Linked DNA regions of Homo sapiens: region 2 is linked to region 1. A link means that fine-mapping ties the variant in region 1 to the plasma level of a protein whose gene starts in the linked region. Region 1 holds a variant in brackets. A gene starts in the other region. All regions are shown on their reverse strands.

Region 1 (16,065 bases):
TTGATTGAAAAATATGCTAATAAAGAGCTCAACACATGGACACAGGGAGGGGAACATCACATACCAGGGCATGCCAGGGGGCGGGGCACAAGGGGAGGGAGAGCATTAGGATAAATACCTAATGGATGTGGGGCTTAAAACGTAGATGATGGGTTGATATGTGCAGCAAACCACCATGACACATGTACACCTATGTAACAAACCTGCACGTTCTGCACATGTATCCCAGAACTTAAAGTAAAATTAAAAAAACAAGAAGACTTCAATCATAAGACAACTGGATGCATTGCAGATTCTTTTCCAGTGGGGAAAAAACTACTTAGGTTTTGTGCACAAACTCCTACATCCTTCTATCACTTGTTTATAATAAATCAAAAGAAGAAGTCTTTCCATCCAGTTCCTCACAGGAATGGATAACAATGGGTAACTCCCAGAGAAGGAGCTGCTGTGAAGTCGGAATTGGGTTCATCATGCATGCTCATGGGTGCGTTAGTCAGCTCGGCTGCTGTGACCAAGTGCCACAGGCTGGGAGGCTTCAGTAACAGAAATTGGTTTTCTCACAGTTCTGGAGGCTGGAAGTATGAGGTCAAAGTGTCGGCAGGGTTCGTTTCTCCTGTGGCCTCTGTCCTTGGTTTGTGGACAGCTGCCTTCTCCCTGTCCTCACATGGTCATCACTCCACATGTATGTGTGTGTGTGTGTGTGTGTGTGTGTGCGTGTGTGCCCCTGGTGAGCTTGTGTGTGTCCTAATCTCTTGTTATGAAGACACCAATCCTATTGATTAAGGTCTACCCAAATGGCTTCAGTTTACCCTAATTACCTCTTCAAAGGCACTGTTTCCAAATACAGTCACAGTCTGAGGAACTGGGGGGAACTTCAACATATGACTTTTGGGGGTAGAAAATTCAGCCCCCAACAACTGCTTGCTGTTCCTAGAACCAAGGGAGGCCCAGGGCAGAGGTGGACAAGGCCCTACTGCTGGCCCCTGGGAAGAAGCAGCAGCCTGCACTCTAGCAGGGATGAGGAAATGACATCTGTCAGCCAAAGCCAAACCAAGAGCAGCATGAAGAGCAAAGGGGCGTCTGTGGGGAGAGGGTCTGGTTGCCCGGGAGCTGAGCCTCTTCCTGCAGAACCATGCCTCTGGGAGGCAGGGAGGGAGTTCAGCTGTTGGCTCTGCGGGGTTCAAGTTCAAGGCCTCTTCAAGACTCTTCTGACTCTTCTGAGGTCTCCCCTCTCTGCAAAGGGTCGTATTCTTGACGTCAAGAGGGTGAGGAGTGAAGAGGCTGTGTTTGTGTCAGTCAAGTGTCCAAACAAACAATTGCATAAGTCAGAGAGGGGACTACAGAGTCACGTTTTCCCAGGCTTTCGTGAGCCCGTCCCACAGACGTTCCTTCTGAGCCCGTCCACCTGGAGGGCAGCGTTCTCCATATGAGCAGCTTTGCAAAATGAACACACCTTAGTCCTCCCTCTCCTCCCCATACATCATATGTCCTTTTCCTTCCAGAATGCAGGGAATGCGGGTTATTTTAGAAACAAGAGTGTGTTTAGAGGGCTGTATCCTTTCTTCCTGGGTGTGGTTAAGGATCAGTCCTTCTAGAACTTTTACATGCAAGTCACCAGGGTGTCTTGATCAAAGGCTGGTTCTGATTCAGCAGGTCTGGGGCTGGAGCTGGAGAAGCTGTGTTTCCAGCAGGCTCCCAGGTCTGCAGCCACACACAGGGTAGTGCTGCAGAAGAGGAAGTCAGGAGTGCCGGATCTGGGCCCTGCCTCCGCCTAGGATGCACAGACAAGTTATCTCTTCAGGCCACAGCCTCCCTATCTCCAAAGTGGAGGAATGGATGCCATAAACCCAATGGTCCCTCTGGCTCTCACATTCTAAGAGACTAACTTGAAATTTGCCAAAAGCGTAGGGCACAGAGTCCCAAATGACCACGGGACTGGATGAAGAAATGGGAAGGAAAGAGCAGGTAGAAAACTGCGCAGCCGTAGGGGGAGCAGTTCGCAGCAAACACAGTGTGAGTGGTGTCCCCTGGATTTGTGTGATGGAGCGTCCCTGGGTTACCAGGCAAATCTTCTTAACTCTGTTCATTCCTTTAGCTCTTGACTTCCTGTAAAAGCTCATTTCCATGTAGAATACATTGACAACTCTTAGGAAAACTGCTGTGTACTTGAAGGATTCACTATTCCTCCAACATCCTGCTAATGACAGGTCCCCTGACTCCCTGAGAAGTGCTCTATCTGCTTCATCAAGAAGCGTGAGGCATAAAGAAGGCCTGGTGCCTGGAAGGGGAAGCTTGGGAGCCCCCATGGAGTCTTTGCTTGTGTGCCAAGCTATTTTAGTAACATGAGACTGCAGGCTTGGGTGTGCTGGTCTGAATGCTGGAACATTAGCTCCAAAGAGGCCTGGGAAGCCTGCAGGGCTCAGGGAGGCCAAGGGTGTGGGCTTGGCGTGTTGGCACCTGGATGCTTGGGTTCAACCGTCAGCAGCAGGCCTGTGGTCTCCCAAGATTCTGCCGTCAGCCTGCAGATCAACTGTGCCCTGGAATGGACTCTGTGCATGCCCAATTTTAGGAGATGTGGTGGGGAGAAGTCCCCTCAGAGAAGAAAACAGGAAAACAGGCCTTGCTTCCAGGGAGGATGGTTTCCAAAGGAGGGGTCCATCCATCAACCTGCAGGTGGGGACACGTAAGAGTTGGAAGGGACCGGATAGTTTTTCTTACTGGCTTTTACTGATTCAGAATGCGCATGCTGGGATCACAGCACGTGTGGAGGGCTGTGGAGGGAGAGGAGCCTGGAGGGGCTTTCTCTTTCCATCTGCTGTGGCAGTGGATGGCCACCCAAGGAAGGGGACCAACTGGAGATTCAGCAATGCTCCCATGCTCATGGCACCTGCTGGCTGCATTGGTGACACATGGGGACGTGGGGACACTAGGGTGGAAGGGCCATTGTTACTCAGGTGCAGTTTTCGGGACTCAGCCCCTACCTCCAGCTGAGATCTGGTTGCTGGGTCCCTGGCAGCTGCCCTGTACTCATTCAAGGAACTGGCAGTTTCCAGGGGGAGACAATGAGATTCATGAGCCTGCTCCTGACACGTGCTAAAATCCTGGTGCATGCAGCTGCCCTGTCAGGCACGTGTTGGCATGTGTGTGGCAGACAGCCAGTGCCTGCTGAGGAGGCAGCCAAATGTACCCACCCAGAGCGAGAGAAATATGACCTACAGCACAGGATGGTCACTCACTCTTGCCAGCGGCCCCTTTTAGCTTATCTCCATGGTTCGTAGGAAACAGACACTTAATTCCAGCAGTTCTTCATTCTAACTCAGTCTTGAACTCTGATTTGAGGTTTTCATGCATAAGAAGTTGCAATAGGAATTAGGAGACTAGGGAAACTATTGCTCTAGGAACGGATCTACCCTGAGAAGTATACACACATGCACACACTTCCCAAGGAACATACCGAGGAATACAGGGATGTAATACTTTAATGTTGACCATCCCCTCTGTGCTGAACTTCTACTGCCTCCCCAGGGGAATCTCCAGTGCTCATGAACAGAAAGGGCTTATAGGAGTTGCCTGTGGAAATAGTAGCCACGCTTTTTCTTTTCTTTCCTTTTTTTTTTTTTTTTTTTGAGACAGGTCTCACTCTGTCACCCAGGCTGGAGTATAGAGGTGCAATCACGGCTCATTGCAGCTTCAACCTCCTGAGCTCAAGTGATCCTCCCACCTCAGCCTCCCCAGTAGCTGAAACCATAGGTTTGTGCCACCACGCCTGGATAATTTATTTTTATATTTTGTCTATGTTGCCCAGGCTGATCTCCAACTCCTGGGCTCAAGCAACCCTTTCACTTCAGCCTCCCAATGTTCTGAGGTTACAGGTGTGAGTCACTATGCCTGGCCATGGCCAGATTATTCTGACACTTTCTTCTCTTCTTCTTTTGGGTGAGTGTCATGAACAGTGAGGCAGGACTTCTCTGAGAGTCTCACAGGCCCGCCTTGAATCAACATTAGCTGAAGGATAAATACGCTGTGTTTGTGTTTTAACCATGCCTTTTATCTTATGGGTTTTCCTGCCTTGACATCTAGGGCCTTGCTAACCCTGAAAGAACTGCCCCTGATAGGGCTAACCAGTTCCTAGAGATAGTAACTTTCTCTCAAGCCAAAAAAAAAAAAAAAAAAAAAGCATGCTTTTCAAATGCAAATTACCTTTCCAGCTAGAGTAGGCTCAGGGAGACCACAGCATAGCCACGTGGTGGAAGAAGATTTATGGAGAGAAAGATAAAAGTGATGTACAGAAAATGGGAGTAAGGTTCAGAAACAGCCAGTTTGGTTATAGCTCGGTGTTTGCCTTATTTGAACATGGTTTGAGCAGTTCGCCCCCTTTGATTGGCCAAAACTCAGTGATTGGCACAAGAGTAGGTTGCAGTCTGTTTACATCTCCATTTAGGTTATAGTCTGCGTTGTATAGAGAAAGCTTTAGGCTGAACTTAAAACATGTAAGGAGGCAGCATTAGGCTGAACTTCATTTAATACCAGCCAACTCCAAAGCTGCTCACCCTGCCTCATCCATTCTTTCTGGCTCTTGACTGTAGCTCCCCCATCTCCCTCTGCCTCCTGACCACCTCTGGTGCTTTCCTGTGTGGTCCCCTGTGGTATGACATGCTCCCTTCTCTAGGGAACTGTGAGTAACAAACTACCTTTTCAATAGAAGTTGTCTCCTGATCTATTGGCTTTACTATAGCTCACATTTTCTATTAATACAGTATGTTCTGAAACAATTTCCATACACACAGAGAAGCAAAAAGATTCATGCCATTCCTGTGGTCATGATGAAGAAATATAGGCTGAATGCCAAGTAGCTACAAGTGGGATTATAAGAGCTGGGCACAGTGCCCAGGGAATCAGCATCCAGCTGGGGAGAGGGGGCTGGTGGGGTTGCCTAGATCTTTAGTCCTGAGCTTTACAGAGTATCGCCAGTGGTTTTGTTGTAGCAGATTGCAGGCTGATACGAGTTGTAAATGACACAAAGCTGAGATTAGCTAATACTAAGAAAGCACAATCAGAATTCAAATGATATCAACAGGCTGGAGTCATGAATGGAAGCTGTACTAGTGTGTTTTCATACTGCTATGAAGAACTGCCTGAGATTGGGTAATTTATAAAGGAAAGAGGTTTAATTGACTCCTAGCTCAGCATGACTGAAGAGGCCTCAGGAAACTTACAATTATGGTGGAAGGTGAAGAGGAAGCAAGGCAACTTCTTCACAAGGCGGCAGGAAGAAGTGCCGAGCAAAGGGGGAAGAGCCCCTTATAAAACCATCACATCTCGTGAGAACCCACTCGCTATCATGAGACCAGCATGGGGGAAACTGCCCCCGTGATTCAATTACCTCCACCTGGTCTCTCCCTTGATACGTGGGGATTATGGGGATTATAATTCAAGATAAGATTTGGGTGGGGATACAAAGCCTAACTGTATCGGAAGCTAACAAGATGAAATGTAACTGAGGATAAATGTAGAATATTCCATTCAGGGTCCACAAGCTACCTGCACAAGAGCAAGATTGGAATAACAACAACAAAAATCCACTTGGTTTACTAGTAGCCTGTGGGTAAAGGTGGCTTGGGTAATGGGCTCAGTATAAGTCAACAGTGTGGAGTTGCAGTTAAGCAATGCCATTTGGCCTCAGGCTGTGACAGCAAAGAATTTCCTCCAGAACAAGGGGGTAATTACTTCACAGTGCCATATATCCCTGGACCTGGGTTCAATGTCAAGTGGTCCATTTTAACAAGTTTTTTGAAAGAGAATAAGGTGTCCAGAAAAGGGTGGCCAGCCTGGTGAAGGGTCTAGATACAGCCATATATAGAATGATATAAAAATTAATTAAAAACAATCATGGATGACACAATCACAGTAACGAATTAGTGTAAAATTATATGACTGAAACATTTTTAAAATTAAAGAAGTAAATGGAACTTTGGGTTAAATATGAAAGTCAAATACAACCAGTTATCTCTTCTGCCTTTAGAATCCCACTAAAACAACTGTAAACTTGGTCAAAGAGAATGGTTGAGACAAGGCAACAAAATTCTTGAAGCTGAAAAGCAGAAAAACAAGTGCTAACTGACTTGGCAGACTCAAGAAAAATTGAATCCTAATTTGGGAGTTGGCAAAGTGGAGAGACTGGAGAACAATCTAATTTGAAAACTAATCTGACCGTTGTAAAACATAGCCCCCAAATTCTTTGACACCCCCCCACCCCCAGTAATAGATGACATCTATGTCTTCTCCCCTTGGATGTGGGCATGCCCGAGACTTCCACCATCCATAGAGTGCAGTGGGAAGGATGCTGTAGAACTTCTGGAGCTAATTCAGAAGAGGCCATGCATCCTCTGCCCGGTGGTCCAGAAATGCCTGCTCTGAGGATGCTCCCTCTCAAATCCCCGCCATCCTGCCAGGAGAAATCCAGCCACATGGAAAGCCCATGTGCAGGTGGTCCAGTAGACAGTCCCAGCTGAGTCCAGCCTTCACGTCATAGCTGAAAAATGATCTAAACAAAAGGATGATCTAACTCTATGAGGAGGATGGGGGAAGGCATGTGTATGGGTGGGAAATAGAGTAAAAGAGAGATAAGTCTTTTCCTTACAGTTGGAATGGATAATCATAAGACTGAAAAAAGAGAAAGAAATAGCAGTATAATTATGTTATTTAGAAAAGTGGAGATAAATATAAAAAGTAAGACTTGAAGGGTTGGAAATTGGTGCCTATGGGAAACAGGATATGGGTTTGAGAGGCTGGGGAGCTGTTGCTTTCATAATAAGCCTCATAGAACTATATGATGATGATGATCATGACGATGACGATGATGATAATGATGATGATTACAGATGGGATCTTGCTGGAGTGCAGTGGTGCAATCATAGCTCATTGCAGCCTTGAACTCCCGGGCTCAAGTGATCCTGCTGCCTCAGGCTTCCTAGTAGCTAGGACTACAGGCGCAAGCCACCCCACCCAGCTATGGTTATTTTTTAAATTATTAAAAATACATGCATATCTTTGATAAATATAAGATCTAAATTAAACAAAGAAAACCTTCACTTTGCACTAGCCATGATATGTGTTATGTTTCAGGAAGGAAGAGAAGGAAATAAGTTATATGACTTTATATTCTGATTCCTCACTGTTTTCCTCCATTTCCTCTTTCCTCTCTCCCTCTCCCTCTTTCTCTCTTTTTCCATTTATTTGCCTTATTTTCCTCTCTTTTATCTCCATCATTCCTTCTCAATTTTTCTTCACCTTTATTTCTTTTTTTTCTCATTTTTTTTCTCTTTCTGGTATAATCTGCCGCTGAAATATATTTGTTAGTATTACTTATTAGGTTTATTGAATATAATATTTCCTGTTTTTAGTTCTTGCTATTAAAAACATGCATGGAATGTTCTTTCTTTTCCCCAACCAAAGCAAACTAAACACAAAGTCAGTTGTAAGCTACTTTTTATCAAGGTGGAAAAAGTTTTCTTCTAATGGCCTTCTTTGACCTGGGAGAGGCATCGGGGTTACTGGGTGCAGGCAGCCACCCAGTGCGGGAAACTACTCTGTGAGACTTCCATGCAGTACAGATTACCCAAGCTCTGATTAAGCAATGCCATTGGTAGGGAATTTCCAGGCGTCAGCCAGGGTTCTGGGGTCCAGACAGCTCAGTGGTGAATAAGAACTTCTGTATATTTGGTGGCATTCCCCCCTCCCTCTAGGATAGTTCAGAGAAAACTTACATCTCTGCATGACAGCCCTTCATGTATCTGAGAACACAGTCATGCCCCGTTGCATAGTTTCTTCTCTGGGTTAAGCACTGCATTTTGCTGTTGTTCTCTGGACCCTTCACCAGCCTAGTCACTCTGGTGGGCACCCTCTAAGTTTTGACTAAATCTTTCAGAAGAACCTAGAACTGAGCATACTACACCAACTGTGAGCTCATTAACGCAGGGCTCAAAGGCTCTGTATCCTCAATCTTTCTGTTCATCCTGCTTTTACTAATGCAGCTTAAGTTTTGAAATGCAAGTTGAGTATCCGAATCTGAAAATCCAAAATCTGAAATGCTCCAAAATTCGAAACTTTTTGAGTGTCAACATGACACTTAAATGAAATGCTCATTGCAGCATGTAGGATTTAGAATTTTCAAATTAGGGATGTTGAGCTGGAATCTAAAAAAATCTGAAATCCAGGCCAGGCACGGTGGTCCAGGCCTGCAATCCCAGCACTTTGGGAGGCTGAGGCGGGAGGACTGTTTGAGCCCAGGAGTCTGAGACCAGCCTAAGCATCATAGCAAGACCCTGTCTCTACAAAAGGTAAAATCATTAGCCAGGCGTGGTGTTGCGTGCCTGTAGTCCCAGGCTGAGGTGAGTGGATCGCTTAAGCCTGAGAGGTCAAGGCTTCAGGGAACTGTGATCAGGCCACTGTATTCTAGCCTGGGCAACAGAGCAAGACCCTTTCTCAGAAAAACAAACAAACAAACACACAAACAAACACCCTGAAATCTAAAACACTTCTGGTCCCAAGCATTTTAGATAAAGGTTACTCAACTGGTAGCTGTTTTCCCCAACTGTTTCTGACTTCCATCAACCTCAAAGCCATCTCCAATGTAAGATTTTTTCTTATATGCCTGGAGAAGCCTGGTGTTCCATATCCTGTATGTGAGAGGTGTCTTTTCCCAACATGGGTGTCTATTTTGCCCCATCCCACTAAATTCCTTCTTACAAGTTTTGGCCCCAAATCTTACCCTGTTTTGAGAAGTTTCTTATGATTCATTTGAATAAACATGTTTGGCTACCAATTACAAATTACCCCCATTAAAATGATATCATAATCTAATTCTCAAATTTTACATCATCTCAACTCCAAGAGAGATCCCTTAAAGGGTACCCTGGGTCATTGAGTCTGACAAAATAAGCAGTTCCAGTTAAGGCTGGCTCTTGGGTCTCTGGGCTATGAACGTGACACGGAGGAAGCTCATTGACTTTGCTGTCTACAACCCTGGACCGGTGTCAGAAAACCTGGGCTGTCTCACGGAATCCATCATCCCCACACTCTGGGAAAAGAATTAAAATGAGCCAAGCACATCGAGACGAAGCAGATGGTTGGGTGGATTCCATGACGGCGCAGGGAACTCCACAAGGCAGAGAACTTTGCTCCCGCTGTCTTGGACTCAGTGCCAGCTGTCAGCAGCTGGACTCTGGATAGGGAGCCCCATCATCGTGATTAATACTCCATTTGTCAGGGGCTGCTAAGTCTGAAAAATAACAGTAAGGCTGACATTAGAGAAGAGCTTCAGCATTTTCAAAGTGCCTTCGCCTCATAACCACCCTTGAGGTGGATGGTAAGGCCGGGAAATAGTAACCCGGTAGTACAGCATGTGAAAACTCAGGTTCAAAGAAGTTTTGTGACTTGCCTACCTCACAGGGCTGAGGAGGGTGGAGATGGGAGTCAAGACCAGGCTTCATGGCTCAGAATCCAGTGTTTGCTTCACGAAGCTTCTCTGAAGTCTACCATCCATATCACCAACCGTTCTGTGGTGAGCAGGTCTATGCAAACCTACTGCCATGTCCTAGGTGGGCACAAGATGAGATGGTAGAACCCCACACCAACACCCCCTATCCCAGGGCTTATATAACACAGGGAAGGGGTATAACATGGATTTGCTAAGGGCAGGATTTACGTCAAGGTTGTTTAGACCCAACGGCAGGATTCACGGTAAGTATGTGAAAGTAGAAATCTTAGAGGCATTCCTGGAACTGGGGTGAATTGGAAGTCAACATGGCGGGTCAGCATCCAAGATGGAGTTCCTTCAGTCTCCACACCAACTGGTCAGAGTGGGCTCATTATCTGCTCTGGGCCTGTCACTGGGCTAGATGCTGAAGAAGGAGCCGCAAGGGTAGAACATATGGACCAGGCCTTTAATGAGCTCAGCGCAACCAGAGGCATGTTGTTCAGGCCCTTCAGCAGGTGGTCAGCCCTTAGCACTGGAATTATCTAGGGAAGCTGAGGCCCAGCTGGCAGAGGAGGCTCCAGAGGAGAGGCAGAGTCTGAGCTGGCCTTGAAGGGTGAGCTGTGCTGGGGAGTCTGGAAGGTGGTGGTGAAGGGCAGGCAGTGCCAGAGGCTCAGTAGGTGGGCATGGGGGTGAGAGGGACAAGAGAAGGAGTGTGGGTGTCATGGTGGCAGAGGACAGGATGGAGGAGGCTAGTGGGCAGGGGTGGCCCCTGGCCTTGAGCAAGGTGTTCAGGCCACTCGCATTTATAGGGCTGAGCTGCAGGATGGGAGACAATGACAAATGGGACGTGGCCCCTTCCTCAGGAAGGGGACAGGTAAGATGGCCTTACTGCCCTCTCAGGACTGATGGCTCCTCCTCAGACTCCACCAGTGTGGGCGTCTTTTACGATGTGGCACTTGGAGCAGTAGGCCTTAACATTTTTCTAAAATTATTTTCAATGATTGAGAAAGTCATCTCTACTACCAATTTCAGCTCAGAATTTCCCTCAGTGCATGCTGTGGAACACTAGCCTTATTCTCTGTTCAAGTGAGAATGGAGAAGCCTTAACACTACATCCCCCTCTTGGAGGATTACCAGGCTCAAGAGCACCTTAAAAGCTCTGATAAGTCCTGCAATAAAGGCATGCTTTTGGCTTTCACCAGAGAATCCTTTTTCAAGGGACTCCTAGGACCATCTCATGAGGTTTGTCAGTGGCCTCTCAGCCACTGTCTAATCCCACTGTCTATTCTGTGATATGGAGTTATTATTTTTATGTCCCGTGACAACACAGAGACCAAGAAGCTTAGCGATTGCCCAGTGATGTGCATTTAGGAATGATCAGATTGAAGTCCAAGACTTGACACTGTAAGTGTAGGGATTTACTCCTAATTCAGCATTTTGTGACAGTGGCATTTGTTGCTGACATGCCTGCTTTCCTAGCTAAGCATATAAATTAGTGTGCTGAGGATAAATAATCTGAGTTATCTTTTTATGAGGTTACTGTAGTTTTTTCTTTTTCTTTTTTCTTTTCTTTTTTTTTTTTTTTGGGACAGAGTCTCACTCTGTCGCCCAGGCTGGAGTGCAATGGTGCGATCTCAGCTCACTGCAACCTCTGCCTCCCAGATTCAAGCGATTCTCCTGCCTCAGCCTCCTGAGAAGCGGGATTACAGGCGCCCGCCACTACGCCCAGCTAATTTTTATATTTTTAGTAAAGATGGGGTTTTGTCATGTTGGCGAGGCTGGTTTTGAACTCCTGGCCTCAAGCGATCCTCCCACCTCAGCCTCTCAAAGTGGGATTACAGGCATGAGCCACCGTGCCTGGCCATTTCTTCTAATTAATAAAGTACTCATAATTTTGAGGGGAGAGGGGAATACAGAAAATTATAGAGGAGGAAATCCAAATAAAAATGTTAAAAGCTGGGCTGCTTTCTGACTTGGAGGCCGCTTTTCTCAGATCTGTTTTTCCTCCCTGAGATCTAGCTACTGCTGGCTGGGGTTAGCGACCTTGTGGGTCAGGGTGGTTGACGGATTTCAGTTCAGACTGGATGAACAGACTTCAGTTCAGACTGGATGAACAGACTTCAGTTCAGACTGCATGGATACTTTGAGATAAACAAGATGACAAATCAGAAAACATTTATGTTATTGATTGAATACAATTTTACAAAGGCTAAATTCTTATTTCATGTGTACAATTATTTTTACCAAAATGAACTCCTAAACAAGATCATGTTCATTATATGATTAAATGTTACTTTTTAAAAATGATAAATACAAATTTTGAGTTTTGAAAGATTACATACTTTTTTTTTTTTAAGACAGAGTCTCACTCTGTCACCCAGGCTGGAGTGCAGTGGCATAATCTCAGCCCACTGCAACCTCTGCTTCCAGAGTTCAAGTGATTCTCCTGCCTCAGCCTCCCAAATAGCTGGGATTACAGGCGTGAGCCACCATGCTCAGCTAATTTTTGTATTTTTAGTAGAGTCAGGGTTTCACCATCTTGACCATGGCTGGTCTCCAACTCCTGGCCTCAAGTGATCTGCCTGCTTCGGCCTCCCAAAGTGCTGGGATTACAGGCGTGAGCCACCGCACCCAGCTGATTACATACTTCTCACCAAGATATTTTTACAAAGCTGAACAATAATAAAAGATAAACACTGGTTTGTAAACGATGGACAAAAATTGCTTTTGAAAAGCACTTATATTTCATGTGAACCAGATTAAAAACTAACCAAAAAGAAAATACTAAAGGTAAACATTTTCGAGTGTATTTTTGCAGAGTAGGCCACAGATAAAGAAATAGCAAGGTCCCTGGGGTAGTCAAATTCAAAGAGACAGAAAGGAGAATGAGTGGTGCCAGGGGCTGGAGGACAGGGGACGGGGAGTTGTTGAATGAGTGGAGTTTCAGTATTGAAAGATGAAAAGAGTTCTGGAGACTGGTTGAACATCAATTCAAATGTACTTAACACTACTGAACTATGTATTTAAAAACAGTTAGGGCTGAGCATGGTGACTCATACCTGTGATCGCAGCACTTTAGGAAGCTGAGGCGGGTGGATCATTTGAGTTTGAGACCAGCCTGGCCAACATGGCGAACCCCCCGTCTCTACTAAAAATGCAAAAATTAGCTGGGCGTGGTGGTTCACCCCTGTAATCCCAGCTACTTGGGAGGCTGAGGCAGGAGAATTGCTTAAGCCCAGGAGGTGGAGGTTGCAGTGAGCTGAGATCACGCCACTGCACTCCAGCCTGGGCCACAGAGTAAGACTCTGTCTCAATAAATAAATAAATAAATAAATAAATAAACAAACAAACAAACAAATAAATAAGGGTTAGGATGGCAAATTTTATGCAATGTGTGTTTTACCACAATTAATTTTTTTAAAAAGTTTAAACAAGAAGTAGCAAACTATAATGAAGAAATATGTAAAAAAAAAAAAAAAAAGAAGCAAAAATATGAACAGTACAGGATCGATGTGTTCCCTGGGAGAAGATAGAGACAAAAAAGAAGGGCGTGGCCTCAGCTCCACTCTGTGCTCAGGGTGAGACCCAGGCTTCCCTCTCCCCTGACCTCCTCTCTCTGGCCACTGCATCCTCTGTGCTCTGGCCACTGGGCCTTTCTCTGCCCCTCCGGCATGTCCAGTGTGTTTCCATACTGAGGCCTCTGAGCCTTCTGTTCCCTGTGCCTGATGCTGTTTCCTCAGATTGTCACACAACCAATATTTCTGGAGCGTGTACTGTGCGCCAGGCACCCTGCTAGGCATTTTGAAGCACTCAAGTGAGCTGCCTTCCTGGAGCTGCTGTTCTAGCAGACAGTAAGCAAAACCAAGCAGGGTGAGGGGGACTAAGAGTGGCAAGGGGTGTGTAGCAATTTTATTTATTTATTTATTTGAGATCAGGTCTCGCTTTATCACCCAGGCTGGAGTGCAGTGGTGCAATCCTGGCTCACTGCAGCTTCGGCCTGCCTGGTTCAAGTGATCCTCCCACCTCGGCCTCCCGAGTAGCTGGGACTACAGGTGCCTGCTACTGCACCCAGCTAATTTTTGTATTTTCGGTAGAGACAGGTTTTCACCATGTTGACCAGGCTGGTCTCAAACTCCTGACCTTAAGTGATCCTCCCGCTTTGGCCTCCCAAAGTGCTGGGATTGTAGGCGTGAGCCACCATGCCTGGCCTGTGGGTAGGAATCATTAGGCTCAGCAGCATGAACAAAGTGACATTTGAGAAAAGATGGGAATGAGGCAAAGAAGTTAGTTGTGCAAACATCTGGTGGAACCACTCCAGGCAGATGGAACAGCCAACCCCAAGCCATAGGGCAGGACCTGCTGGTGTAACGGGCCCAGAGTTCAAGTCAACAATCAGACTTAATGACATAATTAAAGGTGCTCAACTTCATGAGTCATCAGGAAAATGCAAATTAAAACCACAATATGGCACCTCTACAATGCACCAGAGCAGGGAAAATGGAATAAACATCACTGACACTGACAAGGACAAGGAATAAGTGTAGTTTCATCCCCTGCTGGATATAAACTAGTACAACCACCATAGGAAACTCTTTGGCAGTGTCTACCAAAGCTGAACACAGGGCCATCCTATGCCCTGGCGATTCCATGCCCAGGTATATGCCCAAGAGAATGGCATTCATATGTTCCCCAGAAGACACACACAAGAATGTTCACAGCAGCACCATTTATCAGAGTCAAAAATGGAGTCTGGACATGGTGGCTCACACCTGTAATCCCAGCACTTTGGCTGGTGGAGGCGGGAGGATTGCTCGAGGTCAGAAGTTTGAGACCAGCCTGGGCAAGATAGCGAGACCTCATCTCTACAAAGGATTTTAAAAAATTAGCTGGGTGTGGTGGCATGTGCTTGTAGCCCCAGCTACTCAGGAGGTTGAGGTGGGAGGATCACTTGAGCCTGGGAGGTCGAGGCTGCAGTGAGCTATGATTGTGCCACTGTACTCCGACCTGGGTGATAAAGTGACATCCTACCTCTAGAAAAAACAAACTGAAAAAGCTTGGTCCCTCCATTTCAAATACTGAGATTTCATAGATGAAACTACTTCAGAAGTCTATTGAACCCTCCTCTATCAAGGCAATCACATTTTCATTCAGCTTCTGGGGGGGAAATGCCTACTACAAATGCCATCCGTGATTGAATGGAAGCAAATCATTTTGGGGACAATTCTGATTTTAGTGGCAAGGAGGTATCTGAGCTAAGAGCTGCCGGGAGGACTCTCACCCATGAGAAAACCAGCCCTCCAGGTCATTCCTATACTTCACTGTCAAATCTCCCTTTGCCTGTTCCGGCAGCTTTATTCATAATAGACAAAGATTGGAAACATCCCAAACCCCCTTCAGCAGGAGACCGATATACACATTGTGTGTGGTATGTGCCTATCACGCAATAGGACTCAGTGCTTCGAACAGGGCGGGAGGTGGGAGGACAAGCGAGGATGAGCGTGGAGTCCTCACATGGCAGAAAGGCAGAGGATCAAGCCAGCCCACTCCTGCAAGCCCTTTCTACGGCATCCCAAATACATTCATGACTCAAATACCCCCACAAAGGCCCCACCTCCCAACACTGTTGCAATAAAGATTACATTTCCAATGCTTGAATTTAGGGGGACACTAACTACCACATTTCTTGCTAACATACACATCTCTTTAGGGAAGGTCTTTGGACATCACTTTTTTTTTTAAGACAGGATCTTGTTCTGTTACCCAGTCTGGGGTGCAGTGGTGCGATCACAGCTCACTGCAGCCTCAAACTCCTGGGCTCAGTTGATCCTCCCATCTCAGCCTCCCAAGCACCTGGGACTACAGGTGTGCATCACCACGCCCAGCTATTGTTTGTATTTTTTTTTTTTT[G/TG]TAGAGACAGGGTTTTGTCATGTTGCCCAGGCTGGTTGGACATCATATTTTGAGCACATTTCTGGCTGTTTTTAAGATTACATTCCTAGGAATGTTGGTGAATTGATGGGGGACAAAAACATTTGTTTCCCCTTGAGAGGCAATGGTACAGGGGAGGGGTTAAGAGCATAGACCCTAGGATCACATTGCCTAGGGTTGAATACTAGCTCTGCCACTTACTGGCTACAAGACCCTGGACAAGTCACTTCCTCTCTGTCTCTGTAAATGAGCATAATAGCAGCACCTGCCTCAGGGGGTTGTTGAATAGGTTCAATGAGCTAATATATAAGAAACACATGGTATATGCTATAAAGTGTTGTCTTCTTTTCCTTCTCCTCCTCCGCTCCCTGGGATTATTACCATAATGATACAATTATCATTTGTTCTTTCTGTAAAATGGAGTTTGATGTTGGAGCTGCTTCCTAGGCAGTCAGGCAGGGCAGTCACTGAGAATGAGGACGGCGTTTCTGACTCAGCTGTGGGCGGGCAGCTGCAGTGACACAGCTGAGTCTTGGCAAACACTTTTCATGTACGAAGCCTGACCCTGGAGTCTTGAGGCTGAACTTTTCACCAACAAACAGGAATGCATTCATGAATGTTACCTCTGGGTGCTGTCCTCTGGAAGCCATCTGCATAGCCTA
Region 2 (16,537 bases), not on the chromosome of region 1:
AATTAGTGGGGGTGGCAGGCAAAGAGACTGGTGCCTGATTCTGGCCCGGAGGAATTCACAGGTGGAAGCTTGGCTGGAACAGGCTGCATGGCAGAGAGAGGAAGGGGGCTGCAGTGTGAGAGGACTGAAACTCAGACTTTGGCGAGGCCAAGTTGATGTCACAGAAATGAGGCATGTTAGAGCTACCAAGAGGGCAGTTCAGGGCCCGAGCTGAGGTGCAGGTCCACCGTTCAGCAGGAGTGTGCCACCCCAAGGGGGCGACTGCAGCAGGACATGCCCAGTGGGTGGGAAGGGGAATATCTAAAGATCCCACAGAAGCTCCCCACAAAGGAGGGGTGGCCCAGCACTGGAAGCATTCACCATAACAAGGGCATCCAACAGAGGGAACCACAACAGCCCCAGTAAAGTAAAAGTGCCCTCTCCCTTCTTTTCTAACCCTCACCTCGCCCCAGGCAGCAGCAAACTGGTGAAGCCAGAAGCAGCCATGCATGTTAAGGAGAGAGAAGTGGAGGGAGGAAAGCCCCAAGCCCCTTCCCTCCAGCTTCTCTGCAGGTTCCAGCATCAGGTCTGAGCTGAGAAAGAAGAAAAGATGTGGCCTGGATGAGAGACTGAGGCTCAATACTGAAATGGACTTGCTTTCACAAAAGCAATTCTCTTCTAAGACCAAAAGCCACCAGAAAAGCTCTGGAATCTGCTTGAGATTTTTGTCAGAAGATGGGGGGAGTGGGAAGCCAGGAAAATGAGTTGGAAGGCAGGTGTAGGATAAAAATAATGATATTTCACAACGGCCATCCTTAGACGTTCATCACAAAGATAAAAGCCACACGCTATTCTCCACTTGATCCCCAGGATAGGAACTGAGGCTCAGTGGCATTGAGCAACTGATTATGCAATTGATGAGCACACGGCCACAGATGCAATCCCAGATGCACAGTGTCCAGCAATGGAGCCACTAATCCCTATACACTTCTGCCGTTCACCAGTAACAACGCATATTGATCTCTAAAGCACCTACTGTGTTCATGGCAGCACATGAGTTTCCACTGTCCAAAAATCTTCTTCCTGGGCAAAAATAGGGCTGAAAAAGCAGACTTCTCTGCCCGTGCTTTCCATCCGACCCCCCACCCCCAGCCTGAGACATAAATGAAGTGCAGATGGTTTTCTGAAGAAGTTCTCAACGAAAGCAAAAAAAAAAAAAAAAAAAAAAAAGCCGTGGACTCTTGCCATCAACCACAGTAAGGCTGCCCAGAGCCCAGGTCTACAGCATTTGTTTTTGTAGCCTGGAATATGAGAACTCCCACAAGTCCCTGTTGGAGCCCTTGGTGTTGCCTGTCCTTCTGATTTGTAACAAGATGTCCTCATTAATTACTGCCTCTCAGATTCCACAAGTTGCGCTCAGATTTTCCTGGGTAGGTTGATTGTTCGAAAGAAGATGAGAGCAAGGGAAATCCTCAACCTAACATTCTGTCAAGTGTAATGAGCAAGAAGAGAAGCCTGCTGGCTCTCACTCCAACACGTGGCAGGAAAGAGACTCCTTGTTTAACAGCAGAAGGGAAGGATGACTTCATCGACTCTTTCAGTATGCACAGCAAACCACAGGCTGAGCTCCGCGAGGGTGGGGAGGGGGCAGACAGGGCAGAAGATTTTTCTGAGCAAAACGCAGGATGATACATTTCCAAATAGGGAGGATTATTCTGCTGAGGGGTATTTTCCCATGGAAAGTTGGGTAAATTCTGCAGGGATGCATGAAGCGAAGGGCATTTACATGCAGGAAATGTGTATGCAGGAACCACAGGAAACCAGTTGTCCCCAAGAATCATTGTCTTACAGAGGCTGGTCATGTCTTTAATTCTGACTGCAGAAGGGGTGTTGGGTGGTGTGGGAAGGTGGGAGGGAGGGATACATTAGACTCAGGAACAAATGCTGCCTTGTGTTGCTTTTACCAGAAAGGCTCTTTGAGGAGTACACGACTGACCATGGGCTGCATGGATGGTCCCCCTACTTCTGCCTTCAGATGTTGCAGGGCTCTATGCTTCTGCTGTGTTCTCTCTTGGTATCTGCATCTACCCCTGTGGCTTTAATTTCCAGCCAAATGTTGACAGTTGCCAAATCTGTATGCGTGTTTCTAGCCCAGGTATCCTTGTGAGCTCAGAGATGACAGAGAGGGCCATGACTGTGTTGATCCCCTCTGTATCACCAGCCTCATAGCACAGTCCTGCCAAAGTAATATTTTGTGAAGTAAGTAGTAATAGCCACTGGATTTGTGTGTGTCTGTGTATGTGTGCTTATTAGATAATGGACATTGTGCCAAACGCTATAAAAATTATCCTCATTTAATCCTCAAAGTCCTGGGAGTCAGTTGATATCATTCTTTGTGACAGGTCCTCAGAGAAGTTAAGTAATTTGCCAAAGGACACACAGCTAAAAAGCAGCAGAGCTGGGATCACACACCAGGTCTGTCCACTGCCTGCGTCTGTGTTCTTCATCTGTCTGTTATATGTCCTGTATATACAAAACAAAAACAAAAACAAAAAAAACACCAGATGTCCTCCGTTCTGCCATGTGTTTTTAAGAGAGGGTTACTTCCTCTGAGTGGTGCCAAGGATGATCCACTGGGGACATGAATTGCATTTCCCTCACATAGAGGTTAAGTCCCAGTCAATTCTCATGAGAAGCTGGAGAATTCCCTTCCTAGGAAACACCAAAGTGCACAGATACTTCTGTCTGCAGGGGCAGATGGCATCCAAGCCTTGGCCAAGGGAGGAGGATGGCCCCTGAATCCTGATGGTCCTCTTGGACCCCAGGGGTGGATGGTTTCTGTGTCACCTCATTTTCCCCAAAGAAGGACACACACCCTGGGTCAGGAAAAAAAAAATACTACTTACGCCAAAGAAGAGAGGTAGCCAATTTCTAGCCACTGTTACAGACCTTTATACTTAAATTCAGGGCTTTCTCTGGTTCCCTTATTATCTCATCCTGCCTTGACAGTTAACCACAGGAAAATGAAAGCACTGCTTTGGGTTTTAGAAAAAGTGTATCATCATGGATTTCCAACAGAGTCACTTAAGAAGATATTCTGTCCCCAAATGACAGGGTGGATATCATTAAACTATGAAGGAAAATGAGGGAGATGAGTGGCTAGGGATGCATCAATGTCACAAATGTCACTGGCAAACTTGTCACTCCTTCCTTAACTCTCTTTGGCATATATTGCTAATGATCTGCAGCTTGGGCCCTGGGTGACTCAGGGGCCTTCCCTGTACTTCCCAAGTAACCTGGTCCAGGACAGCAAGTTCTCAGCTGGCTGAGGAATCTACCCTGGCTCAACTCACCTTGAACTAGAGGCTTAGGGGACCGATTTCACCTCTGTATCTCTTTCTCCTTCAGATCCAAGAAAATGGATATACAAGGGAGGTCTGTCTCTCCTAGGTTAAACTCCAGTAGAAGCAAGTACATACAAACATTTTTATTTCTAGTCTCTGTGATGTTGAATATAGGATTGCATATAGGATACAAGACAGCTAAGTATGGAAGAGAATGGAAATTTGGTTTTATGTGATAGGGCTTAGTATGGTCACATTCTGGGTATCACTCTGTCCCCCCATTCTCCTAGTTCTGTGGGATACCCAGGGAGTGTCCAGGAAGTCCTTGGAGATGACTCTCACACCACCGTGCTAGAACCCTTTTCCTGGAGAGCCATCCCATCAAGTCTGCCCACCCGCCTGAGGCTTGAAAAGATCAAGGATGGTGTCCTGACCCAGCCTCAGCACTCAATCACTTTTTCAGGGGTGACCACAGGCTCATTTTGTTTTGTTTTGACAACTGACTCTTAATCTGCCTTGCAAAGGCTCAAATGAGTGATGATAATGGTAGCTACCATTTTCTATGCATTTATTACATGCCAGGCTCTGTGCAAAGCACTTTAAAATCTCCTCTTGGACATCAGGCAAAGATGTTCATTTACCCCCAGAGAATGAATCACTTTCTCACAGCAAGAACTTCCTTTAGCTTTTGTGGGACCAAGCTCATGCACAATAACAAGATAAAATAGACACGGGACCTAAATTCAGGAACCTTCCTCTCCCTTATTCAACCAAACAGCCAGTCCCCAGAATGACTAAATATTACTTTGTATACAATTAGCCCTAATATCCATGGGTGTGAGGGGCGTCAGATTAAAACAAAACAAAACAAAAAACTCTGCAATTTCTTTCTTTAGCTAACGTGTTGTTTTCCACATATTGAAGTAACTTTAAAGTTCCAGTCTTCTAGCAAGGAGGAGAGCGTTTGCTAATTTCCAAGCATTTGCACTGTTCCACTCACACTCGCTGGGTACAGATTCAAATGGTGGCTGGGCAGCATTAGCAGTGAGTCCACTGTGGCAGAAGCAGCAAAGTCCCTGTCCATCCAGAGATCAGGCCTGAGATCTTAGCAACTTCTGCTCACAGACTGGTGGCTCCAGATGTGGCTACAGGACCTAAACCATGATCTCATGTCTGTATCCAGATCCTATAGGAGCCAAGGCTCTGGAATGAGCAGTGAATGGACAAAAGTTTCCACTGGGCCTGGGCACAATTTCCTCAGGCATCTTCTCAGAAAGAGAGCTCTGCCCACCCTACATTTCAAACCACAGAGCAGCACTGGACTGGAAAACCAGAAGCCACGGGATGATTTGAAATCATTTGTTCTATTTTCCCTCCTTCGGGAGTCAGCTGCAGCCTATAAACTGGGGACAAAGCAGTACTTAGAGTTGTATGAAAGAATGCCAGGTGCCTTCTTCCCTTCTCTCCTGGAAAAATGATACCAGTATTGATACTCTATTTTTTCCTGTGTCTGACACTGTCACCTTGATTCTGAGTCTGCAACAAATGTCTGAATGTCAAGAGGCCAGCTGCCAATACGTAGCCCTGACCGAGCAAGGTATCATCTGATGCCTTGGTGACACCTCAGCTTTTCCAAGAACCAGTGGATTTTAGGCACTGTGGCTAACCTGTGTCCCAATGTGGGCAGTTTGTTACTTTTATGTTGGAACTTGTTCTTTTTTTTAATGCTTATATAAGCAACACAGGTTTCATGCTTTTAAGTGAAGCCCTGCCTGTTCTCATTCATTCTTTCTCCATCCTTCCCCCAGATCTCTCCCAAGCACAAAAATTAATAAATAAGTAAAAAGTAAGACCTCCAAAAACTAGTTTTTTTTGTTTGTTTGCTTTGTTTTGTTTTTGTTTTTTAGATGGAGTTTTGCTCTTGTTGCCCAGGCTGGAGTGCAATGGTTCAATCTCGGCTCACCGCAACCTCCACCTCCCAGGTTCAAGCAATTCTCCTGCCTCAGCCTCCCAAGTAGCTGGGATTATAGGCATGCGCCACCACGCCCGGCTAATTTTTTGTATTTTTAGTAGAGACGGAGTTTCTCCATGTTGGTCAGGCTGGTCTCGAACTCTCGACCTCAGGTGATCCACCTGCCTCAGCCTCTCAAAGTGCTGGGATTACAGGCATGAGCCACCATGCCCGGCCAACCACATCATTTTTTTAGATGTCTTGAAATGTTTTCTTTGAGGTATTGTGAGGGTAATAGTATGGGGATTTCGAGAGAAGTTGTCGTCTTAACAAATAATAATTAAAACCTGTAAAATTAAATGTCTGGAGATACTTCAAAGCTGTTCAAATGTGTTTGCAAACATCCCCTTAACTGATTCACACAAAATCCAGACAAAGGGAAAGTTATCATAGCTTCCTAATCATAACTAAAATAACAATTCTGTTTTAGGATTTAAAAGAATAATGAAATACAACAATACTAAATTATCCAAAAAAAGACAGAGAGAGAGAAAGCTTTGACATTGTAAGTAAGTTAAAAAGAAAAAAAAATGAGAAGGAACATCTTAAAGGAAACATTTTATACAAAAATGTGTTACGCCAGGTAGAAGCTGATACAACACAGACGCATCTGTGTTGCAGGAAAGAGGATAACTATGCTTAGCCCTGTCTGAGACTGGAGTATAATACTAAGGATGCAGTACACGGGTCCTGAGAGGTACTTCCCAATTCATTTTAACTCTTCATGGAGGTGATAGGAGACTAATTACACTGCCCGGATTTTCAGGCTCGGGAACGGAGGCACCTGAGCCACCACTTTTGAGCTCATCTGCATTGGCCACCTCCCTCCCTCCAGTAAGTAAAGCTTGGGCAACTGGCACTCTTACCTGGGAGGCTGCTGGGTGCCTCTTCCAATGCTGCTGCTCCTGTGAGCCGGTCTCCTCCTGCCGCAGACCTTGGTACTTGCTGGTCGTCCCTGGTTCTCGTCTCTCCTTGGCTTCCCTTCCTGGGTTTAAATCCTGTCTAGGCCAGAGGAGGAGCAAATGGAGACTCCTGGTGTTTTCCTCCCTTCCTAGCAGGGACTCTGCTAAAAGATAATGAGCAATTCCTTCTCTTATTCTAACTAGGAAAGAAAAATATATACATTTCCTTCTTCTTTTTCACTTTGATTACACAGCAGCTAAAAATACTGGAGGCTGTTTCCATTTAAGTGAATCCAGAATAAGGATATTAAAAGAGTTTGCCTGTCTCCTGGCCAGGAGCTGGGTCTCGGGGTTCAAAAGTGCATTTATAAAGTTTCTTTCTCTTTTTCCTGTTTCAGGCATTCTGGGACTTCCTGCCTACTGCTTTTAAAATGGGAAAAAGCCTTTAGCACAGAAAGAAATGAGCAGAGACCCTCAGGGACAGAAGCTCTTCTGACTTCCCTCCTCCTTCATCCATCGTCTCACACTTGTGAGTGGCAGGACTCTGAAGTGGGGGCAGGAATAACAGACTGGGGACATTCGGTCCCACAAGCCCACTCTGACCCTCACCCCATCCCAAATGCCTCCCACACGCCAACAGTACAAGAGCTCCAAAATCAGGAAAGAATAGTCGTGCCCCTTTCTGGCTGCCCTTCCTCTTTTGCCCTCAGATGGACAGGCCTTCATCCTTCCTATGAACCAGAGTCATTTCAATAGGGCATGGGCTGACACCTGCCACCCTTCCTTACACCCCATCCCTCTCCTGCTCTGTGGGAAGTAGATTCTGGAGTGCAGATCCACAACAAAATGAAGGAGACCATATGTTTCCAGTTCACCTATGTCAGCATCAAATGCTGCTGGAGGGAAAGGAGAAGGAGAGACGGGGGACCAAAAAGTGGCCCCCAGAAATTGGAGGGGGGTTCCCAGAGGCAGCTTGCCTGGATCTGAAGCTTGTGTCTGCTACTTGCAAATGACCTTTGACAACTTCTTTGTGGCTCAGCTTACTCGTCTGTAAAATAGGAATAGTGTCTTATGGTTATTGTGAGGTTCAAATGAGTAGATGGGGTAAAGAACTTAGACTAGTCCCAAGACACAATGAGGACTTGGTAAAGATTACCTGCTACCATGATTATTATAACTTTTTAATTCTCCTTATGTATCCCACTAAATCATATTTGATCCTCTCCACCTCAGTCCAGGTAGGTTCATAGTTCTCTGCCCTTCACTTACAACCACAAATAATCCTGCTATCTGGCCCTGGAATCTGGGCCAGCCATATACAGAGGTGACCAGTGCAGTAGGAACCAGGGTCACCAGAAAATTTCCCAACTCCCAAACATCTCTTTTCTCCCTTGGACTATTTTCTCTGCTTCTTAAAAGGGAAAATCTCTCCCAGAGGATCCTAAGACTCTATTGCGCCCTCAAGTTGCTCTCCTATTCTTAATTTCCTTTCACTAACTCTCCCCAAATGAGTGGTCTTCACCAACTCTCTCCGTGACCCCATTTTCCATGCCCTCAATAGGAATAACTAAACCAGTGCACCAGGCTCCTAAGAAGCCACCTTCCTCCAATCTCTCCTTATTACAGCTGGTATTAGTTAGTTGCAGGACATGGAGCTGTAGCAAAGAGACCCTCCAATGCAGTGACTTAACAACATAGATGATTTCTCCCCAAACAGTAGAAGACAGTGGCCCAGGGCTGGTAGGGCAGTGCCACCATCCACAGCACACACCCACCACTCTCTAGGGTCATCATCTCCCAGCCAACAGGAAGGGTAAAGGGATGAGGGCAGATGGAAGTGCGTGCTCATTCCTTACAAACACAAAAACAAAAACTTTTTATTTTATAATTATTTCAGACTTGCAGAAAAATTGCAAAAATATTAAAAGAATCCCTGTATACCCTTCACTCATATTCTCCAAGTGTTAACATTTTGTCATATTTGCCAATCATTCATTCTCTCTTAATAGTTTTCCCTGAAAACATTTGAGAGCAAATTAAAGACATGATTTATCTCTTTACCCATTTATGTCTAAAAACTTTAGTATAGGGTGTTTCCCAACAACAAGGGCATACTCTCTCATAACCTCAATACAATGATCAAAATCAGAAATTGACATTGACATAATACTATTGTCTAATTTACAGACGATATTCAAATTCCATTGATTGTTTCTCTAATGTCTTTTATAGCAAAAGAAAAATAATTTACAGACCCAGGATTCAATTCAGGATAATTAATTGCATTTAGTTGTCCTGTCTTTAAAATTTCCTTAAGTTGGAATAGTTCTTCAATCTTTATCTTTCATGACCTTAACATTTTTGAAGAGAAAACGTCAGTTATTTTAAAGAATGTCCTCAGTTTGCATTTGTGTGGTATTTTTTCATGCCTAGATTTAGGCCATACGTTTTTGGCAGGCAGCGGCAGAAGCGGCGTGTCTTTGGTCCATCACATCAGGAGACACTTGATGGCAGTCTGTCCCAGTGTTGGTGATGTTACCTTGGACCACTTGGTTAGGGTGATATCTGCCAGGTTTCTCCACAGTAAATATTTGCCCTTTTTTATTTAACAGGTATATTGTGGGATGATGTTTTTAAACCATGTAAATATTCTGCTTCTTTTTATATTTTCACTCACTAGTTTTAACACCCATTGTTGATTCTTGCCTGGAACAATTACTACTATGCTGGCTGCCAAATGGCGATTTTCCTAATTTCATCTTTCTTTTTATGTTTACTAGATAGAATTCTATTATAAAAAGTAATTTTTCTTCCCCCACCTTTATTTTATTAATCACCTTATATTCAAAGTGACTCATATTCTTTTTTTCATTCTATGGGTTATATTCCTGTACTATCATTATTTTGTTGCTCAAATTGCCCCAGATTTGGCCAGGGTGAACCCTTCAGGCTGGTTACTGTGTGCTTTTAACACACTTCCATCATTCTTTGAGTGTTTCCTTACTTTTGGCACAGCAAGATATTCCAGACTGATCTTGCACTTCTCCTACCCAGTCCTTTAGAAGCAGCCATTTCTCCAAATATCTTTATTTCTTTCTATTGGAGAATGATGCACATTTTGGATAACGCTAGAAAAGGAACACATCACTTCTTCTGCATCCCATTGGCCAGAATTTAGCCAATGTGCACATACAGCTGCCGGAGAGGCTGGCACAGTGGTTGTGTTCAACTAAACCTCAGGAGCTCTGTGAGTAAAGAAAGGAAGAAAGAATAGGGGTTGATGGGCAGCTTGAAGTCTGCCACAGAGCCTACCCAATCACTACCGGTATAGTGTTCTCCCTGAATTCTAAAATCTAATCATATCTTTTCCCTGCCCCAAATCCTCCAGAAACTCTCATTACTTACAGGATTACGCTTCTAAAGTTCTCTGTAATGCCCCATCATGCCCCTTCCTATGCACCTCCATATCCAAATTATTCCCCTGCTATTTATAAATACAAACCATCAGGTTTTTTTTATTTTTTACTTATTTTTTGAGACAGAGTCTCACTCTGTTGCCCAGGCTGGAGTGCAGTGGTGAGATCTCGGCTCACTGCAACCTCCAACTCCGGGGTTCAAGTGATTCTCCTGTCTCAGCCTCCCGAGTAGCTGGGATTACAGGCACCCACCACCACGGCCGGCTAATTTTTATTTTTTTAGTAGAGGCAGGGTTTCCTCACGTTGCCCAGGCTGGCCTCAAACTCCTGACCTCAGGTGATCCACCTGCCTCAGCCTTCCAAAGTGCTAGGAGTACAGGCGTGAGCCACCACACCCGGCCCAAACCATCAGTTTCAACCAACTCAGCCTCCTCTCAGTCCCTGGTAAACATGATGCTCCTCCTTGTCTCCAGACACTGGTGATGCAGCCCCCACTTCTTGAAGTCAATCCCATCTCCACATCCAAGAGATCTGCTCAGATTTCCCTACTATAATAGCCTGAATCAATGTGAAATGTTTTTTTAACACCTGGCTTCAGAGTTTTTCTTAGAGAGATAACTCTCTTTGTTCAGGAAAATACTTAGGATCCTTAGGACAAGTTTGCAATGAAACAAAGAAACAAACAAACCAAAAAAAAAAAAATGCAAAACTGCTCTGCATGAAATAAATAGGAACTGGCAGTAGGAAAACAGAAAAGATTGTTAAGATTATGAAGGTCATGAGGCTAAGGCCTGGGGAGGAGTGGGGCAGGTGAAATAGGAAAATCACTTTTAAGAGCAAGAATGTCTACTCTATATTACATTGTTTGCTTTGCCTTTTTTTTTTTTTTTTTTTTGAGACAGTCTCACTTTGTGGCCTAGGCTGGAGTGCAGTGACACAATCTTGGCTCACTGCAACTTCTGCCTCCCAGGTTCAAGTGATACTCCTGCCTCAGCCTTCCAAGTAGCTGGGACCACAAGTGCCCACCACCACGCCTGACAAATTTTTGTACATTTAGTAGAGATGGGTTTCACCATGTTGGCCAGGCTGGTCTCAAACTCCTGGCCTCAAGTGATTCACCCTCCTTGGCCTCTCAAAGTGTCGGGATTATAGGTGTGAGCCACCAACCCTGGCTTGTTTGCTTTGTTTTCTATAAATCCCTCTTCCTGGTCCCAAACCTTAAGTTAAGTCTTCCACCCACACAAATGCTTTTTTTTAACTCATGTGATGGGGAAAGATAAACCAAAAGACAGGAGCTACATCACACATCTGGGTCAGCACTGCACAAGGAAATGTCTGTAAGATGTGAGGCATAGTGCAACAGACTTCAGAGGAAGCAGAAATTCGGGTCCAGGCATGACCCCTGGGATGTAAGCCCTTCACACTGCCCAGGACAGAATCCAGAGGAGTTGGTCATGGATGTGGGAATGGGGAGATCTCAGATTTCTCACAAGATGTAGGATCGAGATTGGAGCCAATTTTATTTAACTCCCTAAGAAAGCTGATCTTGGCTGACACCTGAGCTATAGGATTTCTTCTCAGAATTCTTCATTTAGAGACTTTCAGTAGTGGCTAGCTGTTAGTTGTGTCCACGAAGAGGCTCCTTAACTTCAGTATGAGCTCATGGAGAATGAGGACTGTTTTCTTTTATTGCCTTCACTACCTATGGTATTGTAAAGTAAATAATAAGCTATCTGAAATTCCATCATGACAGATTTATGCCTTAAGATGCCCAAGAACAAGGCAAATTCCCCAAACATATGAGGCCTACACCGTGGTAGCAGGCCCTATTTTGCCTGCCTCCCTGAGAGCCTTGCCCTTCTTCTTCACCAAGAACCCTAATTTTATTTTGATGTCTACTCACCACCTCCTGATCTTGGTTGGGCTCAGGGAAGGGCTCTGACTGATCTAAGCCAACCAGGGTAATTTCATCACCCTTGCCAGTGACTAATTTAGGCAAGAACATGCAGTGAATTTGAGGGTGGGTGAGACATAAAGGAGAGGACACAGATGGAGATTCAAGGAAAGGTTCCTTCACTCAAAAAAAAAAAAAAAAAAAAAAAAAGACCAGGTGTGGTGGCTCACACCTACCATCCCAGCACTTTGGGAGGCCAAGGCAGGCAGATTGCTTGAGCCCATGATTTTGAGACCAGCCTGGGCAACATGACGAGGCCCTGTCTTAAAAAAAAAAAAAACAACAATGAAAAAAAAAAACCCACAGCAACAAACACAAAACACATACACAAAAATTAGCTGGGCATAGTGGTGTGAACCTGTAGTCGCAGCTACTCTCAAGGCTGAAGTAGGAAGATCACCTGAGTTCAGGAGGTCAAGGCTGCAGGGTGCTGTGATCATGCCCTTGGACTCCAGCCTGGGCAACAGAGTGAGACCCTGTCTCAAAACAAAACAAAACAAAACAAATTCAAAAGAATTGGATATTGTCACATCTACAAAGAACACCTAGAACTGTGGCAGACACCTTACAACCAACCATAAGGGGTGCTAGCCAAAGACAAAGAAAACACACCAAGGATGTCGGAACAGAAAATGGAAGAAATCCTGTGTTTTTATGATGTTGCTATCCTGCTGAATTAACCACCTCTCAAGTTTTCCTACTTCAGAACTTTCTTGAATCAGGAGTTTGTTTCTTAGAGCTGCTAGCATTCTAAGGGATTCAGTTTTTTTTTTCTTAGTAACATGTAAATGGAAAAATGATACAAGAGCCTATATTCAAACTAGGGGAATAGTTTAATATGAAACTAATTTCAACTCATTTTGTCCAAATAGTATAACCCATTCCAGAACAACCCGGAAAAAAGTCACTGATTCAAATGATGGTTCAACCAACATGTTATTATGTCTTATTTTATTTGAGAAAAATGTAGGAGAAAGCATTCCAACGTCAGTCATCTGTGGTCGTCTCTAATTGTATTCATCCTAAGAAATCTCCCAAAACCCAGTAGGCCAATGTGCTGGCTCTAAGGGAGCCTGAATCAGTTGTCTAGTTTGGAGACCTAGAGCTGCTCTCAGCTGGTTTTGATCTGTTTGAGCTGGCTGGAAGATATGTCTTCATATCTTTAATTAGGATTCTGCTGAATCTAAAAGAACTGAAACCAAAGCTGAACAGACCTCTAGGGTCAATATCTTGTGTTGGCGCTCTCTCTCTCTGTGTGTGTGTGTGTGTGTGTGTGTGTGTGTGTGTGTGTGTGTGCGCGCGCGCGCACGCTGTCACGCTCCATAAATTATATTTATTCTGTACCCATTTTCTTCTTATTCATCCCTTGTAATAGTTACTGAGTTCAAGTCTCTAATAGTGCTTACAGAGATGCACCATCTTTGACATTAGATGTGTGTGCCTATAAAAACAGAGAAGAGAATGTGGGATTCAGCTAAGAAGGTTTATTACTCCCTTCAAGGCAATGAAAGACCTTGATTCTTTTCCCATCAATATTTCCTTCTCTTGAGTCAATATGTTTTGATATCCATCTCAGTAGAAGTCAGTATCTTCTCATTAACCTCTTTTAGCAATAGCAGTTGCTATGAGCCAATGACCTGGTGTGTGAAATTAGAAATCTGCATTTGCAGCTAGGGACCCAGAACCTAGGGGCTGACAGTTCGATCCTTAGAAGGCTCTTGATGCATTACTTGACCATAGGTTGCTATTTTGTAAATATCATTATTTTCATGACAAAAGTAACTTATTATTGTAGACTAACTAGAAAATGTATAAAAATATAAAAAAGAAAATTAACATTTTCTGTAATTTTCACAACCAGAAATAACCAGTAATTTTTTTCTACGAATGTTTTCATATGTAGAGAGACATATAATATCTGTGCATATACATAAAAACAAGATTAAACAATTAAGATTATATTATATAGGGAATTTTTTCTGTTTGCTCCTTATATAGTAACTTTTTTCTCCATTTTCTTACATTTATTTAAAAAGACATGCTTTTTAATGTTGCACAGCATTCTAGTATGTACATCAAATATACGGGGGAAGGGATTGGTTGCAGAGGGACACAAAGTAATTTAGGGGAGTACTGGAAATGTTGTATATCTTGATGGTGGTGGTTGTCAAATACTTTGCCAAAACTCATTGAACTGTACATTTTACAAGTATAAATTTTAATATATATATATATTATATCTCAATAAACCTGACTTAAGAAGAGAAAAATGAAAAGACTTGCTGAAGGATCCCCACATAATCTGACTCAGTGTTGCCCAGGTCTTGGTCTACCCTATAATTCTCTCAGTCTTGGCAGCACATGGTAATCGCTTGGGAAGTTTTAATAAAAGAAATTGGCAGTGTTGGGGTGGGGAAGAGAACCAGAGACTCTGATTTAATTGGCCATGGGTCAAACCCAAGAACTGTATTTTGTAAACGTTCCCCTGGTGGTTCTAAAATGTGCAAGTGTGTAGCCAGAGTTGAGAACTACTGATCTACACTGTAAGTCATTTAGATCAGGGAGGCAGGAGGATAAAAAATGGAGTAAGTAAATTTCACAACCATAATATCATTTTATATAATAAATGTCATAAACTAAACATTTATTAGTACACTGATTTTCTTTGTCTTATTTTCCCCAAAGCCCTGAGATAGTCATATATATATATATGCGCATATATATATGTGTATATATATATGTGTATATATATGCGCATATATATATGTGTATATATATGCGCATATATATATATACATATATATATATATATATGTGTGTATATATATATATATATATATATTTGAGACAGAGTTTTGCTCTTGGCTCTTGTTTCCCAAGTTTGAGTACAATGGCGCAATCTTGGCTCCCTGCAACCTCCGCCTCCCATGTTCAAGCGATTCTCCTGCCTCAGCCTCCCAAGTAGCTGGGGTTACAGGCACATGCCACCACGCCCGGCTAATTTTTTGTACTTTTAGTAGAAACGGGGTTTCACCATGTTAGCCAGGCTGATCTCGAACTCCTGACCTCAAGTGATCCATCCACCTCGGCCTCTCAAAGTGCTGGGATTACAGGCATGAGCCACTGTGCCCGGCCATTATATATTTTTTGAGATTTAATTCACATACCATAAAAGTATGCTTTTAATATTTTGATCTAATGGTTCTTAGTGTGCTCACAAGGTTGAACAGCCATCACCATTATCTAATTTGCGAACATTTTTATCAACTCAAAAAGAAACCCCACACCTATTAGCAGTCACTTCCCACTTCCCCCTCCCCCAGTCCATGACAACCACTCATCTACTTTCTGTCTCTATGGATTTGTCTGTTCTGGACATTTCATATAAACTGAATCATGCAATATGTGGCCTTTTGTGTCTGGCTTCTCTCACTGAGCATAATGTTTTCAAGATTTATACATGCTGTAGCATATCTAAGAATTTCATTCCTTTTTATGGCTAAATAATATTTTATCATATGGATATACCACATTTTGTTTATCTATTCATCAGTTGATGAAGATTTGAGTTGTTTCAACTTTTTGGCTTTTATGAATAATGCTGCTAAGAACATTTGTGTCCAAGTTTTTATGCAGATAAATGCTTTTGTCTTTGATATTTGGATATTTGACTAGGAGTGCAGTTAATTTCCGGGGCATATGGTCTCTCTATATTTAATTTTTTGAGGAACTGCCAAATGGTTTTCCAAAGTGGCTGCACCATTTTATATTCCCACCAACAATGTATAAAAATTCCAATTTTTCTGTGTCCCCACTTGTTATTATTTGTCTTTTTTTATAGCAGGTCTGAAATGCTATGTTACAGTTTTTATTTTCCTTTCTCTAATGATTAATGATGTTGAACATCTTTTCATGTGCTTATTGAACATTTGTATATCTTCTTTGGACAATTCTTTGCCCATTGTTTCATTTGTTTTTTTTTTGGTTTTTATTGTTGAGTTGTAAGAGTTCTTTATATATTCAGGATACTAGACCTTTAATAGATAGATGGTTTGCAAACATTTTCTCCCCTTCTTGGATTATCTTTTCACTTTCTTGATAATGTCTTTTGAAGCACCATAATTTTTAATTTAATAAGGTCAAAATTTTTTTCCTTTGTTTCTTGTGCTTTAGGTGTCATATATAAGAAACCATTGACTAATCCAGGGTTATGAGATTTACAAGTTTGTTATAGTTTTAGCTTTAACACTTAAGCCAGTGATCCACTTTGAGTTAATTTTTGCATATGACATGAGACAAGAATCCAACTCTATCCTTTTGCATGTGGATATCCAATTGTCCCAGGAGCATTTTTGGGGAGGACTCTTCTTTCCACATTAAATTGTCCTGGCATTCTTTCCTGTTGAAAATCATAGTCACATGCACTTTTTTAAGTATTTAATTTACACTCCCATCAATAGTGTAAAAGCATCCCTATTTCTCTACATCCTCTCCAGTATCTGCTGTTTCCTGACTTTTTAATGATAGCCATTCTAACTGGCATGAGATGGTATCTCATTGTGGTTTCGATTTGCATTTCTCTGATGACCAGTGATGATAAGCTTTTTTCATATGTTTTTTGGCCACATAAATGTCTTCTTTTGAGAAGTACCTGTTCATATCCTTCACCCACTTTTTGATGGGGTTGTTTGTTTTTTCTTGTAAATTTGTTTAAGTTCCTTGTAGATTCTGGATATTAATACTTTGTCAGATGGATGGATTGCAAAATTTTTCTCCCATTCTGTAGGTTGCCTGTTCACTATGATGCTAGTTTCTTTTGCTCTGCAGAAGCTCTTTAGTTTAATAACATCCCATTTGTTAGTTTTGGCTTTTGTAGCAATTGCTTTTGGTGTTTTAGTCATGAAGTCTTTGCCCATGCCTATGTCCTGAAT

Alleles and levels. Positions count from the first base shown, and alleles are read on the strand shown. Strength reflects both the effect of a copy and how common the allele is.
For the plasma level of the protein whose gene starts at base 6,303 in region 2, G is the low allele of the variant in region 1 and TG is the other (weak association).

The links. A credible set is the group of variants that fine-mapping cannot tell apart. PIP is the chance, under the fine-mapping model, that this variant and not a neighbour inherited with it causes the effect. Protein levels are from antibody-based Olink assays in UK Biobank. Linkage for the fine-mapping came from a reference panel and not from the study's own genotypes, which makes the PIPs less certain.
Region 2: TNN starts here. The variant in region 1 is the best candidate, but not a certain one, in a credible set for the plasma level of the TNN protein (UK Biobank, PIP 0.67).

What each region holds. Positions count from the first base shown.
Region 1 is chr8:27,993,502-28,009,566 of GRCh38, reverse strand. No RefSeq gene overlaps it. Among named protein-coding and RNA genes, the nearest start is that of SCARA5, 8.9 kb to the right of the region's middle. The variant G/TG (reference allele first, on the strand shown) is at 15,386.
Region 2 is chr1:175,057,599-175,074,135 of GRCh38, reverse strand. It overlaps TNN (tenascin N), which reads right to left and starts at 6,303. Exons shown (of 19, transcript NM_022093.2): 1 at 6,201-6,303. RefSeq lists an enhancer at 5,783-6,982.